2 separate regions of the Homo sapiens genome follow, and region 1 is linked to region 2. The links come from fine-mapping of genetic effects on plasma protein levels. A gene starts in region 2. The other region holds a variant in brackets. All regions are shown on one strand. Distances are from middle to middle.

Region 1 (9,828 bases), 60 kb before region 2:
CATGCCTCCATCTGCAAACTTGCTATATTATTACTATTCTTTCTCATTTTATCTTCTCCCATCCTTGGCTGAAAAACTGCTTTTCATTAAGGAAAACTTCTCTTTACTTCCTCTGCAGGTATCAGTTCTGTTTCTTCTTTATCTTGACCATTAAATTTCTTCCTACATTCTCACATATTGTTTTCATAATTCATGTTTCAGTTGAGGCTTCATGTCCAACTGCAGTGACACTGTTCACTCAAGACCACTGGTGACTCCCCAGGGTTCAGATGCTGTGACTCATTCCAGTCCTGGTTCACCCCATTCTTTCTGCACTATTTGACAGTGCCGCCCTTCTCGTCCTCCTGAGACTGTATCCTAGCTCTCTCATCTTAGGTGAAAATGTTCCCCTTGCCTCCCTATACCAGTCTCCCAAAGTTCACTCATATTTCAAATCTCATTTCAGACTTCTCATGCATGAAACTCTTATGTTTTAGAATTAACCTATACTCATATTAACAGTAATCCCTCCCTTTATAATTAATCATTTTAGGTATTCTAAATATTGCCTTAGAAACACTTACATCTCATTTGGTAACAAAACTTTGAGGAAAAAAATGCCATAAAGCCAAGAGGTCTGGGAGAAGCATTTGGATGTGAAGAGTAAGGAAGGAGTAGGGGTCAATGGTGTTTCCTAGGTGTCTAGCTTCAACAGATGACCTTTGACAAGAAGCATGTTAGGGGAGCTAGAGATAAAAATCATTACATTTTATAGCATGCTGTATGAGATATAGCTGTGTACCATTGGCATGGACTCATAAGAGTGACAAAAACATAAAAGTTTTTGTTGTAGTTGGGGCCACGCAAGTAGGTCTATTTCTCTATTTAAAGCATTCAAAGTAAGAAAAGGTCAAGGAGAAAAGTCTGCAAACCAGTATTTGAGAATCAGACAAAAGAAGAGATTCCAACTTCTATTTAGATAAAACTCATATAATGGATAAAATCAAATGCTTTGAAATATTTGATACCATGTTGATAGATTACAACTTTCATTATATGTATCTTGTATACAAAGCAGGGCACAGCATCATAAAATGAAATTAAATCAATCTAGCAGGAGCTGCATTCCTCAGGGATTCACTCTAGTGTCCCTACGACCACCCCATCCCCAAGAATCTTTGCCTTGTGGCTCTGCCTGTGAAATTTGAAGTTTTCTATTTCATCCAATGGAAGCTAGAATTTTTAAATATTTGGTTCTGTCTCTTAGGCCCTTAAGCTCAAGGATAGCAAGTACTAGGAGCATGAAGCACCTGTTGAAAATATTACATGTTTGCTGGAGAATTCTTGCAAGGTAACAACAACAACAATAACAACTGCTATAGGGAAACTTGCAGAAGAGATCATGCGTTTCTGTAAATACCTGTAACACTTCTTGCTACAATGTGTTATATAAAATAAGTAGAAACTCTTAAAAATACATAAGTCATTTTTCATTATTATCTTACATCATGCCAGGAACCCCATCTACTCCTCTGTGTTCCTTGAGTGCACTCAGTTTCGTTTTCAGCAGAAGTTGTGTCATACACTCACTGTGCAAAGCTGACAGTCCCTAACATCATTTGTTTTGATGAGGGTTAAAGAAAGGGTATTGTTGTTTCATAAAAACAATGTTGAATAAATTTATAAATAACTTTGTAATGATGAATTGTTTATACACTGCTGTTGAATTACATGCGGGCAAAACATCAATAAAATTTCTAAAAATTCATTTGGCAGAATTGCTTTTCAAGTCTCTCAACTCTTTTACTTAAAATAAAAAGCTAGACTGGACACTAGACATTGCATAGCCCATCCTTTGACATCTTTCCAGTTCTCTTAATCCTTGATGTAACTCTGTTGAATTAGTGTGAAAATAACCAATAACAGGCTCCTGGTTATACATTTGTATGTGTGTAAAATGTGTGTGTACATTTGTATGTGTGTAAAAGGGAGAGAACATTCAGGCATAGAGTCAATTCTGCTCTTTACCATGTTTTTCAAACTAACAGCAGGTATGGCCCACTAAACCTTCATTGTTTTAAATTTAACAAGGGGAGGGGATTTCTTCCATTTCTTTATAAAAGTTCTCATAAAAGACGAACTCCATTGAGACTAGGTCTAAATATTAGGTATATCTGTTTTTGCCCTTCTCCAAAATGCATATTCTATTAGTAACTGGACAACAAAAAGATTTTAGAAGATTAAGTTTACAAACCCTTGGGGAGGAAAATGACTTGTGCTACCAGGCACTTAACTAAAGCAGCTCTGGCAGGGACAATTATATTATAATCTATCACCAGAGAGCACACAAAGATGCAGAATACATAATTATCTTATCAATAAGCAGAGAGCAGTGGCAAAACTCATTTGAATTAAGAGCCAAAAATGTAAGTCTCAAGGAAATTATAAGGTGTCAAGCAATCAGTAATATTGAGATGAATTTTACTGGGATGCAGGAAGGTTTGCCTAAGAATGAGGAAAAAGCAGAATTGAGAAGAACTTCTTGAAATATGGCCCTTACACCAAGTACGAGGCAGTGATGATCTGTCTACCCTAGAGGGAAAGATGTCATTCTTAAAAGGACTCAATGTAAGGTGCAGGAAAATAAGGCCTGTTGAAGTCTGAGGGTAGAGGAAGAGAAGTGACAAAAATTCTGTAGCACTCCAGACCTTACACTAAGCATATCTTTCTTACACAATGACAAGCTGTCAATAAAAAAAATACAAAATACATGAAAAAGTGAGAAAATATACCATTAAGAAAAAACAATCAAAAGAAAACTAGGTATGTGTATTAGTCCGTTTTCACACTGCTGATAAAGACATACCCAACCGAGACTGGGCAATTTACAGAAGAAAGAGGTTATTGGACTCACAGTTCGACGTGGCTGGGGAGGCCTCACAATCATGGCGAAAGGTGAAAAGCACTTCTTACTTGGTGGTGGCAAGAGAGGAGAGAGTTTGTGCAAGGAAACTCACCTTTTTAAAACTATCAGATCTCGCAAGACTCATTCGCTATCAAGAGAACAGCAAAGACCTGGCCCCGTGATTCAATTATCTCCCACTGGGTCCCTCCCACAACACATGGCAATTATGGGAGCTACAAGATGAGATTTGGATGGGGACACAAATCGTATCAGCATGGAACACATATTAAAATTAAAAATAATAAATATTTATTGTTATTATTTACCAAGAGCATCATCAGCTCAATGGTCCTCTATCTATGCAAGCAGTGGTTCTCAAAGCATGGTTGGAAGACCAACAGCAACAGCATCTTTTGGGAACTTATTTGAAATGCAAATTTTTTGGCCCCACTCTAGACCTACAGAAGCTTTGAGGAAGGCTCAACAATTTGTGTTTTGACAACCCTCCCAATGGTGGTGATGCATACTAAAACTTAAGAACTACTAAAACCACTATATTAAATAAATTGAATTCATCATCATAAACAAAGATAACACTAGGCCCAAACACCTCCCCTCATGAATATTATTAAGTTTGCAGAATGAAATAATAGAAATGATACAAAAACATTTTGCAAAAATTAAGGAAAAGGAAATGGTTTTGAACTAATTTCAGGAGGCCTGCATAACCCTACTACTAACCTGATGAAAATATTGTAAGGAAAGGAAGCCATAGACCAATATTCTACGTAAAATTATATATGAAAATTTTAAACAAAATACTAGATAATTTAATCTAATAACAGAGAAAAAGATAATACATCATGACTAAGTGAAGTTTATTCCAGAAACACCAAGTTAGATTGACAACACAAAATCAATCAACCCTGCAATTAGTAGTATTAATGAAATAAATAGAAATATTATATGATCCATTTAATAGGTGCAGACAAGGCATTTGACAAAATTCAATACCTGTTAATGTTGAAAATCTCCCATCAAAGTAGGACTGGAAGAGAAAATTCTAAATCTGATCAAAGAAATCTATTAAAAAACCAACAATTAACTTCCTACGTAATTGTGGAATGTTATACTTAGAACTCTTAGAACAGTTCCCGGCACAAAACAAGTACTACGAAAAAGATTGCAAAAAAAGTAATTACTCAAATTTTTCATTCATCTTGTCATAAATGCTACAAGTAACTACATGCTGTAAAACTTTATGACATGATATAAAGTAATTAAATTTTATCCTGGCAAAATTAAATATTCAATAAATATTTTTCTTAATTTAATGGCATTCTGAATATTTTAAGACAGGAAAAGAGAGATTTTGAATCATAAAAAGTTTTAAACATTTTCATTATTTTCCTTCTCTCTAAAGAATGGATAATGTTTTTCTATTTTCATAGACTGAAAATGTTTGCAGCAGCAATACACGTTCCCAACTGTGTGATCATGTGTTTGCATGTATCTGATCTGTTATTCACATCAGGATTCCTTTTTATCTTGTCCTACTTCATGTATATGTCTGAATGAAGCCTGGTCTTTCCATGCAGCATCAGAGGTCAGTAAAACACATACATTTAGGTGGTGACTCAGTGGTTCCAACTGGACCTTAGTGTCCCAGTCATGTTTCCAACACAGACCTTCAAATTCAAAAGCTTATTTAAAGAACTGCAGTTATTTTTCCACTTCTGTTCAGGTTTCTGAAGGATGAAGGTATTTTTTCCTTAAAATGCCATCTTGAGTTATGAGCTACCCCTAACTTTATTTCAAGCTTTCTGAACTTGAGTCCTCTCATCAGAAGAAAAAAGAAAACCCACCTTTATCCATAAAAGGAGGAGGAGACTGAGTCAAAATAAGATTAGGCAATTTAAACTGCTGCAGCCAGTAAGGGCCAGAGCTGAGATTTGAACCCAGGTAGATAGGGCCCAGACTTTCAGTTCTTAAACATTGTATATACTGCCACTCAAATTAAAATCATTTGCTTGATGTCTTCCATAAGTTGTAGGTTTCACAAAGTCATCAACCATTTACCTTGTTCACAGGACCTACCTAGTACCTAGATTTCCAAGAAACAGATGTTGAATAAATGAATCATGTCAGGTAGCAATTATCCCTAATCTGCAGATGAGGAAACTGATATTTACAAAGCCAAAATAATCTAGTCAGAATCAAACAACTAATACACACAAAATTTGAACCTGAACCACTCTGAATTCAAATCTTTTCCTCATTCTTTTTCATACCACACCACAATAACTATTCTCTAGAAATCTGAAAATCTTCAAAAAATGGATAAACAAGAGGAATGCAGTTGGGGAGGATTTGTCCCCTTGAAGGATGTATATTAAATCACATCTATCATGAGGCCTTTAAGAGTACTTTATAAAAAGAGATACTCATCGTCACCTCCTGGTGATGGCAAGGGCCTTGAGGTCCCAGATATGATAATGACTATTGTGATGATGATGATGATAATGACCGAAATAATAATAATAATAATTCCTAAAATAAAGAATTAGTCTTAGTACCAGAAACAAAAGAGACTGAAGTTCTACTCATGGAGCGTAATGTTGTTTACCTCAATTAGGCCATTAGGCATCATGCATGTAAACTTTGATGTATTCAGTAAAAGAGATCTACTCTTTTCACATACAGAAAATTAACTAGGCAAGTGAAAAATTCACTCAATTCAGCCATAACACAACAAATATCGATTTAGTATTGTCACTAAAATAGCACTTCACAATCTAATGGACAGTTTTTTAAAAAAATTTTAAGCTTTTTACTTTGTATGTATCTTGACGCTGCATGAAATATCCTTAAAGAGGAAAGGGATACGTTTAAGTTAAGGAAGGAAAACTGGACTGAAAGATATCA[A/G]TACAATTGTAATAAAAAAATTCAAAGGAAGTAAATCAATGTGCTCATATTCTTTACAGATTCATAGCTCAAAATGGAAAAATTCACATTTTAGCAGATGGCTAATTATTAGTGTAACAGGAACAGCATTCATGTCATGAACAACAAACTCAGTAAGCCATTATCTTAATAGTGATGTTCAGTGTAGTTCTATCCTGTTACATTCAATTGTTTTCTTCTTAAAGAAGGAAATTGAAAAAGAATTGGAAAAGCAGACATTTGCTATCATTCAGGGTTAGCTGCAGGCACAGCCACAGAGCATATTGACGTAAATAATGGACACTTACTGTCCAGACAAGGGGGTGACTCACTCCCAGACTGGCTCTCTGGATTGAATTGTAATTACTAGAAACTTTCACAATTTTCTGCCTCATGTTGTGAATAAAAAGAGAGCACAAATTTATGTTTAATGGTCAAATAAAACATTTGTTGGTTTGAGTAACCTAATCTAATCTTTTGATCAATCTTTTGATCACTAAATGACTAAAATACCATATACTCATTCTTAAAAGTTGCAAGAAAAGGAAATATAATCAGTAAGATATGTGTTGACAACAATCTGTAAACAAAAGACTAAGCTAAAGTATATTGTTCTTACTTTCATCCTTTCTGTTCTTCTTCCCTTCTCTTATTCATTCATTCAACAAATATTTATTGATTACCTATCATGAGTAAGTTTAAGTGTGTAGACACTTGTACTACACATCCAGCCCACATAAGTGAGCTAGCATACCATATTGAAATAGGGCAGTATATGGTGGATAACATCTCAATAATAAGCAGTTCAAACAACCGTGATTGGGGAAGCTAGATAAAAAACAGCTTCCAGATGGGAGTAATCAGGTAAGGCATCAGAGACCCTTCTTGAATCTCATCAGGACTGCCAATCCAATTACACCCCTCCCTTTCTCCCTCTCTCCCTTTTTCCCTCCCTCCCTCCCTCCTTATCTCCCTCCCTCCGTCCCTCCCTCCCTTCCTCCCTCCCTCCCTCCCTCCCTCCCTTCCTTCCTTCCTTCCTTCCTTCCTTCCTTCCTTCTTCCTTTTTCTCTCTTTCTTTCTTTTTTTGTTAAACCTACTGGCCTTTTCTTCCTTCATTTTCCTCTTCACAATATATATTCCACCATTCCAATAACAATCTTGAGGACAGGTGTGGTGGCTCATGCTTGTAATCCCAGAACTTTGGGAGGCAAGAGGACTGCTTGAGCCCAGGAGTTCAAGATCAGCCTAGGCAACACAGTGAGACCCCTATCTTTGCAAAAACTCAAAAAAATTAGCTGGGCATGGTGGTGGACAACTGTAGTCCCAGATGTTTGAGAAGCTGAGGCAGAAGGATTGCTTGAGCTTGGTAGGTCAATGCTGCAGTGTGCCATGATCTTGTCACTGTACTCCAACCTGAGCAACAGAGTAAGACTCTATCCCTGAACAGAAACAAAAACAAAAACAAAAAATCCCCAAAAAACATTCTTGGCCACATTCTAAATGTACTTATGTCCCATATTTTGATCACACTGGTCTTAACAAACCAGTCCTTAATAAACCCACATATTGAGTCTTTCTTCATTTACATTCTTTTCTGGCATTCCAATAATTTTTTTTTCAAATTACTTTGCAATGACATTACTCTGCAATGACTGTTTCAAACCGTTTACATTCTCCTGAAACTCCCATCCCTACTACTTCCCACTTCTTCCTTGGTGTCAGAGGTTGATGTCACTTACTATCTCAAAGGGAAAATAGATGCCATCAATTGGACATTTCTTCAATCTCTAAATCACATGCTCTAAGCCACCAAACACACATGTCTTTTCTCCTCACCCATGTCTACTCTTTGTCTTTTTGCAAGACAGGAGGTGGCCTGCTCCTTGCTCACACTAAATCTCCTGACTTTTGAGCTTATCCTCTCCCCCTATCTTAGGAACTTTACTCAAATGTTTTTTCTCTTTGCATTATCTTCTAACTTTCCCATTAAACCTGAATATTTTTAATGGCTTTTAAGCTACCTCCAGCCACTCCCAAGAAAGAAGATTCGTTCCTCATTCTCTTTCAGCCACAACAAGCTCTCCAGAAATATTATACATTTTTGCTGTCTCCACTTCTTCATCTCTTGATCACTAGCCAACACTAATCTGGCTTGACCCTTTACCACTCCACCAAAAGAGCTCTCATCAATGTTCCCAGTGGCCCATGTCACTAAATTCTATTCCCCACCACCCACTTGTTTTTGTTTTTGATTTTCATCTCTTTTGATTTCTTAGGAACATTGGAAAATATCAAATACTACATTCCTCTTGAAAAACTTTCTTCTTTTGACTTGTATCATATCACATTTTCCTGGCTTTTCTCCTGTATTTGACCACAACTTGCTGGTGTCTTTTGCATGTTTCTTCTTCCTACTCCCAAGATAACTATTAGCCTGCCTTCAGGCCATGTCAAGTCTCTCTTCTGCTCACTTTTACAACTCACCTTAAGCAATCCCATGGTATTAGCTAGCATCCATGTCTTTGTTGGACATAAATCTTATGCCCCTTCAGAGATGTCCCTCGACTGCCTCCTTCTTTTTCTTTCTTGGTCAGTGCCCCACCTGGATGGACCTGGTCACACCTCTACCTCAAGGCTAATGCTGAAGTTGTTTGAGTTGGCTGTTAAAGATTGAGTAGAATTTTAAAAGATGGAATATAGAAGTAGAAGAATTAATTCCAGAAATCTAAAGTGGCAAAACAAAAGTGCACACTCATAAAAAAAAAATCAAGGCAAATTTTGGAATCAGCAAGTAGTGTGCTTGACATGAGCACAAGCTTTAAAGGTAGGTTAAGCCTGGCTTATGGAGAATTTGGCTGTCAGAATAAGGAGCCCAGTTCTCATTCAGTAGATAATAGCAATCCCATGATGGTTTTCGACAAGAGACATATGGTTTTAAAACAGTGGTTTAAGATGGCAAACCTAAAGATCTTTTGCAAGGTGGCTTTCAGAAAAAAGACTATAGAGACAGGAATATGAAGCTGCAATGTAACTATTTTAAGCTTTCTGTTTTGGGGTGATAAAAGCTTTAATCGAGAAGACAATGGAACCGGGAGGAAGAATGGGGCCCAGAAAACACACTGAAGGACAGCAACTAAATTTGGCATGCCTGATATGCAACAGATGAAAACACAGGTTAAAAAGTCTCCTTAAGGTTAAAAGTAATTGGAAAAAGAAAGTCACTGTTTATGTTCAGAAGGGGAGTTGAAAATGTGAAACTCACCTCTAAGAGTGAAGCCTGGAGTACTCACATTAATTTGAAAGCTGTAAAGAGATGATAGCTGAAAATTTCAAAGTTGAGTTTTCCAAAGAGAAGGACGTAGAGAAGGGGAAGAGAAGAAAGTCAAGAATAAGGCCTTAGGAATTATATAAAATGTTAACAAAGGAAACACAAAAAGAACAAGCAAAGAAGAAATTCATTTTGTGCAGGGCTAGATAAGCCAGAGAAACGGAGCAGGTCAAGAATGCTACTGAGAGGCTAAAAGGAAAAGAAAGCATTTGGCAAATTCCAAGAGTTTAAAAATCCTTGCAAGGAATTAAGAAGAGATTGATGAAACAGCCTGGTGTTTTAACAGACATTGTGGTTAAAGGGGGAAAAATGTTATAATGTGCTAGTTTAAGTAGGGAGTAGAATTGGTGAAAAGTCTGTGGCTTTGCATGCTTGGTTAAAGCCAAGGAAAAACTGACAGCATATTTTTAGTGAGGAGGGGCAATTATTGGAGAGAAGAGACATAATAAGGTAAAGAAGTGACTAAGTGATGAACATTTAGGAAAACGGAAGAAACTAAAGGAATTAAAGGAACTGGGAAAGATAAGTTATTTTAAAAAGGAAGGACACCTTGTCTTGGATATAGGAAGTTATATCGTGGTTGAAAATAGATTAGCTGTGAAGACCTGAGAGCGATGTGCTCAGAAGTCTATTCAAACTGGATGAGATAAACTTTGCAGACACTACTGGAAAA
Region 2 (9,828 bases):
TCTTACATGGCCCAGCTGGTTAGAAAAATACCTAGTTGGTGAAGGAGTTGCTTAAACTTTAGCAAAACCCTCATGACCATTTACTGCTCAGAAGAGATTAACTATCTTTCTTAGCAGATGTGTAAACTCATTAGTGCCAGCTGGACTCATTTCAAGTTTTATTTTGGCAGGGCTTAAACTAAGAGGCAGCAAAAACTGTCTTTGTTTATTAAGGAGTTATCAGTGTAACTCCTTAAATACCTATGTTACATAATATGTATCCCCAAATCACTGGGCTCAATTAATTCTCATCATTCACTCATAAGCCAGACATGCTACCTCTCTCTAAGGTGTCTGAGAGAGAGGAAGACCATCTGCCACAGTCCATTTCTTAAATTCTTGGTTCACCTACCGAGACGGCAGGGCTCTCAGAGGATACAGTATCATACTCAAGGCATGGGAGGGGCTAAACAGGTCAAAATCAACTTCATTTGTTGTGGGGTCCAGGGGTGTGGTGGTGAGAAAGATCAGAGGCAGCAATCTGACACATGCAGAGGCGCTCCTGGACTCACTGCAGCTTTTGCATTTTTAAATTCTGGTATTTCATATTCTGCTTTAAGGTCTTGGTATGGTAGAAAGAACTTAGGTCTAGGTGTGATAGAAAGAATATAGGACTAAGAATCCAGAACTGTGGATTCTAGTCTCAGGTCTGCCAACAACCATGGCAGGTAAACATGACCAGATGCTTAACCTTTCTAGATCTCAGTTCACACTTGTGTAAAGTGAACATACTTATAGTTCCATTCAGCATTCAAATTACAACTCCATGCCTTATTTTTACAGAACTCCAGACTATTTTGAGCCTTTGTCTTTAGCCACAGACAATTTAACTGTCAATTGGTGTAGCAATGACAAATCAATCTGGATGACTGTTTTTCCCAGTTATCTCTAGCCTTGCACTTCCTGTTGACTTTGGACAAAGGAATTACTTTCCTCAGCCTTGAGGCAGCATTTTGGGCTAGACACTGGATTAAGGAGATAGAAGTGCTATGACATCCCTTTGGAGGCTGATTGTGGTGGTCATGTTGCTCCTTCCAAAATATTCTAAATGTAAATTCAGTAACGTCAAAGTAGTCTCCAGGAAATTCAGATTACCCTTATATTGGAAGATGTCTTTTTCATGGATATAAAAATACTCAATTATTTATGCAATTAAGAGGAATACTTTTTTTGTAATAACCTGGGTTAGTAATCTCAAACTTCTGCCAATTCCACTTCTTTAATTCTCCTTTCTCCATCTGTGGTCATAGAGGTTTTAAGGATGCACCCTGTTTGGCATAGAAAAGTAGAAGGAAACCAGCATTTCTAGAGCATCTCTCGGGACTGATTCCAACCTGCATCTACAGACCACACCACAGAAGGGTGAGAGGCCTGTTTTTGCCCCCCTCCCATTTCCACTACATGCCTTATACAGCAGCCCTGAGTGGGCTGAGGATTCTGCTCTGAAATCCCCTTGAAGCTCATTTCCCTAGAAGAGACTACCAGAAAGTGTGACAACTTCATGGGCAGAGAGGTGGTCTCTGAGCTTAGTTAAGAGAAGAGCTGACAGGAGCAAGGACATGGGCTTTAATTCTATAAGGCCATTTCATGTTGCTCTGTTTCCTGATGGGAGTTTGATGCTCCATCTCAAAATTGTGTGCCAAGGCTCTCAATGGGAAGTAGGATATGGGATGATCTGGATGAAGTTTGTGCCATTGTGTGAGGGGCTAAAACAATATCTTTGAATGCATAGGCATTTTCCATTTAATCCTCATAACACATCTGCGAGGTAGAGTTATTATGTCTATTAGAAAAGGAAACTGAGGCTCAGAGAGTTTTAAGTAACTTGTCCAATGTAGCAAGGAATAAAATCCAGGTATCCTCTGAATTCCAACTCTATTTTTCCATGGCACGATGCAATTTCCCAAAATGTCTGTCTTGATACAAAAGGGCTAATCTTTTTTTTTTTTTCTTTTTAGTCAGATTCAGAGTCTCACTCTGTCATCCAGGCTGGAGTGCTGTGGCACGACCATAGTTCACTGCAAATTCAAACTCCTGGGCTTAACCAATCCTTCCATCTCAACCTCCCATATAGCTGGGACTACAGGTGTACACAACCATGCCCAGCTAAGTTAAAATTTTTTTTTTTGTAAAGATGGAATCACACTATGTTGCCCAGGTTTGTCTCTGACTCCTGGCCTCAAGCGATCCTCCTGTCTCAGCCTCCCAAAGTGTTGGGATTACTAGCAGAAGCCATTGTGTCCAGTGGTTCATTTTTTTTTTTGTATGAGCGAAAGACAATCAAAAAGTGTCCAGCACCTGAGAACAAAGAGAAATGGCAGTAGTCAGTGCTCCATGAAAACTGAGTATCAGTCCTTGAATTTTATTTTAGTCTAAAGATATATTTAATTTTATTCAGAAGATAGATATAGGTAAGTTTGAAGTTGAGTCAACTTTTCTCCTGAATATGATTCTCGGTAAATGAGTGGTAAAATTCCCTCCCCTAATAATATTTTGAAGGAACTGGGAGGGTCTAATCTGACTTTACTCTGAATGTGTCATTCCAAAACTGGCTGTCTGTCTCAGTGGTTGGTGCATTAGAGCCAGCTCACACAGATTTTGGCCATGGGGAGCTCTGGCTCTTGGAGATCTTTTCCCACCTCGGCATTCAGTGATTCTGCAGTGGCAGCTTGAAATTGACCTTAGTGAGCACATTTACATCACAGAAATCAGTTAACTATACAAAGCATCCCCATCCCATTTATTTTTCCCTACTGGAGAGGTGATAATTAAACATTTATCCTTATAGTTTCAACTATCATTCTTAATCATAGACATCTGCTAATCAAAGCTGACAGCATTTCCAGATCAGGCTGGTTTTCCTAGGACTGTGACCTTGTAACATGACATCAGAATGACTGAAAACTGGCACAAGGATATAATGTGCAAAATACCTCAGATTATTAACCCACTTTGAGCAAGTGTGTCCTATACTTTTCAGGGCTTCCTGAAAACTTGAAAGAGAACTTCTGTAAACTACCCCCAGTATCCTCAGAAGTCAAGAATAATTATTTACTTGAGAATGTTGAATACAACAAGAGAAAAGGGGAAGGGAAGACAAGTATATTAAAATGTCTTCAAAAATATCTTTAATATTTTATGTAAAATTTCACTGTAGGTAATTGTTTGTATTAAAAAAAAAAGTGGATCACAAGCTAATATGTCAAAGGAACAGGGAACTTTAATGGATGCACTGACATTAGGAAATGTGTGGGAATACACTGATCTGGTCAAATCTTCAGAACTCCCCAAGGCTATCTCTCTGGGCTGCTATGGTTCTTCTCCAAAAACATAGATACATACAAAAACATAGCTTCATACATGCTTGGTTGGGGTGTAAAATGGTACAATCATCTTGAAAAAATCCTTTGGCAGTGTCTAACATTTCTAAGTATTTTATCCAAGAGTAATAAAAATTGCAGGTCCACACAAAGCAGCTTTTTTCATAAGAGCCCCCAAACAAACTAGAAACAACACAAATTCCAGTAATAAGACATTTGTGATATATTAGAATATTACTCAATGATTTAAAGGAACAGACTATTGATACACACAGCAACATATTTATACATTGTGGGATATTCATACGTTTTGGTAAATTCATACCTTGGACTACGCAGGAATTAAAAGAAACAGACTATTGATGCAGTGACCTGGGCGTATCTCAAAAACAGGAAGTGTGAGAAAGAAATACTACACAGTGAATACTTTATAATTCCGTTTATATGAAATTCAAGAATAGGCAAATCTAATCTATGGTAATCGAAATGAGAAGAGTGTTTGCCCCTGGCCTAAGGATGGAAGGATTGATTTAGGAAAAAGTCTGCAGGAGCTTTCTGGAGTGATGGAAATGTTCTAACTCTTTTTTTTTTCTTCTTCTTCTTCTTTTTCTTCGTTTCGAGACGGAGTTCCACTCTGCCGCCCAGACTGGAGTGCAGTGGCGCCATCTGGGCTCACTGCAGCCTCCGCCTCCTGGGTTCAAGCCATTCTCCTGCCTCAGCCTCCCGAGGGGCTGGGACTACAGGTGCCCGCCACCACGCCCGGCTAATTTTTTGTGTTTTTAATAGAGACGGGGTTTCGCCATGTTGGCCAGGCTAGTCTCGAACTCCTGATTTCAGGTGATCCACCCGCCTTGGCCTCCCAAAGTGCTGGGATTACAGGCGCGAGCTACCGCGCCCAGCCAAAATGTTCTAATTCTTTATTGGTGGCTACACAGTTGTCAAAATTTATCAAACTGTCCACCTACGATATATTATAAGCCTGTATTAAATGTAAATTAGAACTCGATTGAAATCTGTGTGTATAAATATAAATATACACTTATTTACATTTCTAATCTAATCTGAAGGTCCATTGCAACGAATCCCGCTCCGCTCTGACCCAAGAACTCCGCACTTTCTCTCCACCAGCCTTTCAAATACCTGAACTTCATGCCTTCAAGAGGTGGATTCCGGCTTCTTTACAGCGCAATCACTAGCAGGTCATTTCCGTCTAGCTTGCAGATTTCCCATTACTGACACAAACGCTCCCTCAGGGCGTCCCCGTCTGGACTACAGGAGAAAGTTTGGGAGGCAGGTTCAACTTTTCAACTTGGCGGGGAATTCCTCTCCCTCTTACACAGTTTGCAGCGCGGGGGCGGCGGGGTGACAGTCCCCGTGCATGAATCAGCCACCCCTCAGGCTCCGCCCCGGCGGGGGTCGGCCGGACGCTCGCCCCGCATAAAGCGGGCACCCGGGCCGCCTGGAGCAGAAAGCCGCGCACCTCCTCCCGCCAGGCGCTTTCTCGGACGCCTTGCCCAGCGGGCCGCCCGACCCCCTGCACCATGGACCCCGCTCGCCCCCTGGGGCTGTCGATTCTGCTGCTTTTCCTGACGGAGGCTGCACTGGGCGATGCTGCTCAGGAGCCAACAGGTATCTGGCCGCTCCAGGAGCTTCTCTCCCCAACCGGCGGAGAGGGCGCAGCGGGCCATGGGGCCCCGTGTAGGCGCCCTCCAAGCCTCGCTTTCTCCAGGTCCCTGCCGCGCGCTCCGCTGGCAGGGGGGACTCGCTCCCAAGTTTGCACTTTCTCTGCAGAGGCCCCTCCGCTCGGAAGGGGACAGAACTCCCCGGGATGTTCTTTCCTCCTAGGAGCTACGCCTGACCACTTTCCCTCTCTTTTGCTCTCCTTCTGCCCCTTCTTCAGGAAATAACGCGGAGATCTGTCTCCTGCCCCTAGACTACGGACCCTGCCGGGCCCTACTTCTCCGTTACTACTACGACAGGTACACGCAGAGCTGCCGCCAGTTCCTGTACGGGGGCTGCGAGGGCAACGCCAACAATTTCTACACCTGGGAGGCTTGCGACGATGCTTGCTGGAGGATAGAAAGTAAGTGCCCTGCGCGCACCCAGGACTCTCGCGCTCCTTGCGCCGGCGGCTGGTAGCAGCTTCGCCAGTTTCCCACGTCTCGCTTTCTACAGGAAGTTTTAGCCTGGGTTTTCTCAAGTGTTAAGCAAACCTCATGGTTTTCAGTTTCTTAAAAGTAATCACAAATTTACAACCACTAACACATTTCCTGTCTCCCAACTGACATTGATCATAATTCAGTGCCTGTGCGGACTCAGGGAAAGATTTGTTCCCTCACCATGGGGTATAATAAATGCAAGAGAATAACGTGTTAGGTACAACGTAAGTGCTTCTCTGTATTTTTCATTAATTCCAAACCTATGATTTTTATCTCTCCTGGAGTACATCATTTCCTTCTGTCGATTATCCATCAATCTGAAATATTTTTAGTGGATTTTATTATTGAAGTGTGACTTAGCTCATTATATAACTCTACTTTTGTCCCGATACCCAAACATGTGTTGGATTAGTTGCGGGACATGGTGGAGATTCATAATACTGTTATATTTTAATTTATTTTTAATTTTTAAATTATATCGGTTAAGGCCTGTAAGAGAACATGGGGCTTTTCCATTCAAGGAACTGAGCCAGGGGAAAATGCGTATTCATGTGAATAAGCTTTGATTCACTGCATATGTACAATCAGAGAACACCCAGAGAAAACAGAGAGTCTTTCTACTGAACTTGAAAGATACATCACAGCTGAGTCAGCTCTGAATACACTGTTAGAAAAAAAAAAAGTAAATATCTGGATTCATGGGAGTATTCTGGGTATTTACTATCCCAACACTAATACAACTTCTCTCCCCCCACAAAATGTTGCTGAAAATACAGTGATGGTTTAATAAGAAGGCTACTTTTGACTAACATTGTTCTATTACCCTCCTTTTCCTAGAAGTTCCCAAAGTTTGCCGGCTGCAAGTGAGTGTGGACGACCAGTGTGAGGGGTCCACAGAAAAGTATTTCTTTAATCTAAGTTCCATGACATGTGAAAAATTCTTTTCCGGTGGGTGTCACCGGAACCGGATTGAGAACAGGTTTCCAGATGAAGCTACTTGTATGGGCTTCTGCGCACCAAAGAAAAGTAAATACGATTTTTATGGTATTTCTATTTCACTTTTTTGAAAAGACATTTGGGTGGAAAAAACTCAATTTGATGCGAAATTAACATGTGCATTTTCATGATTTCACATTACTTGACAAGTTAGTGACTTGTCAAGTTCTTAGGACTGGAAAGTGACAAAGCCATGATTCAAATTTTTGCTTTCTGCCTCTTCTGATTTGTTGTTTTTGAGACGGACTCTCGCCCTGTTGCCCAGGCTGGAGTGCAGTGGCACAATCTCGGCTCTCTGCAACCTCTGCCTCCCGGGTTCAAGCGATTCTCCTGCCTCAGCCTCCTGAGTAGCTGGGACTACAGGCGCCCGCCACCATGCCCAGCTAATTTTTTTTTTTTTCTTCTTTCTCTTTCTCTTTCTTTCTCTCCTTCCTTCCTTTCTCTCCTTTCTTTTTCTCTTTCTTTCTTTCTTTCTCTTTCCTTCCTTCCTTCCTTCCTTCCTTCCTTCCTTCCTTCCTTCTTTCCTTCCTTCCTTCCTTCTTTCTTTCTTTTCTTTCTTTCTTTCTTTTTTCTTTCGACGGGGTGTCACCGTGTAAGCCAGGATGGTCTTGATCTCCTGACCTCATGATCTGCCCACCTCGGCCTCCCAAAATGCTGGGATTACAGGTGTAAGCCACCACGCCCAGCCCTGAATTGTTTCTTTAGAACTATTTCTCAGCTACTCAATTTATGCATAAAAGATTAAAGTATTCATTAATGAATGTTATGACCTCAGATTTGTACACAATAAGTTATACATGTGAGATAGTGGAATATATACAGAATTAAGATGGTGAAACTTGAAAATTTCTTTCTAAAGTTTTCGGTTAGATTTCTGTATTCTTCAGTAATTGCAAATTGCAGCACAAACATCTCCACACGTTTCTGTCCTATCCATTTGTTACCTCTCCCACCACCACCCCTGAATCCTTGAAATGATAGTCTCTTGAGTAGTATTTAATGTTTGCAGAGGGAGACAATACAGGCATTTCCCCCAGACACAGAGATTTTTGAAAAGTTCAACAAACAAGGAAAACTTGCTTTGGCAGAGAATTTGATAAAGCTTTATAGCTGTACTGTGTTGAATATGCAAAATCTTGAGTTAATGTGGTGATGGTTACTGTGGATGTTCTCTTGTTTGTGTACATATAAATGTTTGCTCCAGTGGTTACCTGGAAATTAGTATGCATATATTATTGATTAATAATGGAATGAGAGCTGTTAAAAACATTAAAGCAAAACTACCAACACGACAAAATTTACCAAATCATGCCACATATTGTCCTTGAAACTTACCCCATTTTTACCTAACCATATCTGGTATTTGGGTTTAACTTCTTTTTACATTTAAAGGATACAAAGATGTAGCTTCAGAAGAAATTCTATCCAGTTTACAAAAATTTAGAATTACCAAAATATAGCATGTAAGCTTACCTGCAATTTGAAGCACATCTTTTTAAAGGTTTAGTATGATATTTTGGATTCAGACTGAGGCTTCTATGGGATTAGATTTTCTTCAGTTACTTCAGTAATCACCATAATTTAAAAATTCTGGTATTATAACATTTCTAATTTTCTTCTCTTTTTTATAAAGTTCCATCATTTTGCTACAGTCCAAAAGATGAGGGACTGTGCTCTGCCAATGTGACTCGCTATTATTTTAATCCAAGATACAGAACCTGTGATGCTTTCACCTATACTGGCTGTGGAGGGAATGACAATAACTTTGTTAGCAGGGAGGATTGCAAACGTGCATGTGCAAAAGGTAGTGAATGTTTTCTTATTCCACCTTTAGATAAACTTTATAAATAACTTATCAGAAAAATTATATTTTTATTTATCCATTTTACTAATAGCAAATTGCTGTTTCTAGACTACTTCTACATAAGTATCTCCGTAGTGTTAATCAGTTTTGTCAAAATGCTTTTACTGGCTAGCTGCAGTAGACGGTAGCTGTATCTTCATATCTTAAAGGTAAAATATTATTAACTGAGTGTATAATGAGTTTTGACTTCACAGTCCTTAAAAATAAGATGAAGTGAGCTCAATAACCTTATCAGAAATAGTGATTTATAGTGAGCCTACAGACTGGAGATGTATGATTTTCATTGTCGTTTTATTGATTTTAGCTTTGAAAAAGAAAAAGAAGATGCCAAAGCTTCGCTTTGCCAGTAGAATCCGGAAAATTCGGAAGAAGCAATTTTAAACATTCTTAATATGTCATCTTGTTTGTCTTTATGGCTTATTTGCCTTTATGGTTGTATCTGAAGAATAATATGACAGCATGAGGAAACAAATCATTGGTGATTTATTCACCAGTTTTTATTAATACAAGTCACTTTTTAAAAAATTTGGATTTTTTTATATATAACTAGCTGCTATTCAAATGTGAGTCTACCATTTTTAATTTATGGTTCAACTGTTTGTGAGACTGAATTCTTGCAATGCATAAGATATAAAAGCAAATATGACTCACTCATTTCTTGGGGTCGTATTCCTGATTTCAGAAGAGGATCATAACTGAAACAACATAAGACAATATAATCATGTGCTTTTAACATATTTGAGAATAAAAAGGACTAGCAAATAAAACTCATTTTGCATTTAAAAGTTGGATTATATTTTAGTCCCAAGAAGACAAAGTCGCAGATTAACAACACTTTAAAAATATTACTCCCATTTTATTGTGTTAGATTGCAGTACAATGAATGAATAAGGGGATTTATTTAAAAGATCTTAACTTTCTTGACTGATTTAAAAAGCTAATCAATTTATTAAAGCCAGAAATGTTCTCCTCTGGGAAAGCAATTTCTATCTATTTATCTACCAATCCCCACTCACATGTATATGTTTGTGTTTACATAGAGATAGATGGTTTTAAGGGTTTTCCTATTGTTAAATTATTTCCTAAGACATTGTGGGTTGGAGACCACTAAACTTATAAAAAACCAAGGAAAGTAAAGTTTTTCAAATGTTTATACTGTTTAAGGTGTTTATTTATATAAACCATGCATGAGAAACCATGCATAAATTTAATAATTTAAATTTCACCAGTAAATTATCATTGATTAAATATGGTCATACCAATGAAATAGGTTTTTTCTTTCTCTGTAATAAAACAATTTTTCTAAATTCTTATGTTTTCATAGCAAGATTAACATATTTAATTACAAATTAAATATGCAAAATGACAAATGCGTTTACCTTTTGCTTGAACAATCTTTCATTTAAAAATTTATCCCAGTTATTTTGACAAATAGGTATATGCCTGAGAA

Alleles and levels. Positions count from the first base shown, and alleles are read on the strand shown. Strength reflects both the effect of a copy and how common the allele is.
As copies of A replace G in region 1, the plasma level of the protein whose gene starts at base 4,826 in region 2 goes down (moderate association).

The links. A credible set is the group of variants that fine-mapping cannot tell apart. PIP is the posterior inclusion probability: the model's chance that the variant is causal. Protein levels are from antibody-based Olink assays in UK Biobank. Linkage for the fine-mapping came from a reference panel and not from the study's own genotypes, which makes the PIPs less certain.
Region 1: its variant is the best candidate, but not a certain one, in a credible set for the plasma level of the TFPI2 protein (UK Biobank, PIP 0.54).

What each region holds. Positions count from the first base shown.
Region 1 is chr7:93,945,962-93,955,789 of GRCh38, reverse strand. No RefSeq gene overlaps it. Among named protein-coding and RNA genes, the nearest start is that of BET1-AS1, 18 kb to the left of the region's middle. The variant A/G (reference allele first, on the strand shown) is at 5,810.
Region 2 is chr7:93,885,751-93,895,578 of GRCh38, reverse strand. TFPI2 (tissue factor pathway inhibitor 2) reads left to right here and starts at 4,826. Exons shown (of 5, transcript NM_006528.4): 1 at 4,826-4,988; 2 at 5,260-5,442; 3 at 6,356-6,544; 4 at 8,148-8,318; 5 at 8,683-9,828. The coding sequence starts at 4,901. The coding sequence ends at 8,759. TFPI2-DT (TFPI2 divergent transcript) reads right to left here and starts at 4,685. Exons shown (of 2, transcript NR_134235.1): 1 at 4,500-4,685; 2 at 1,991-2,337.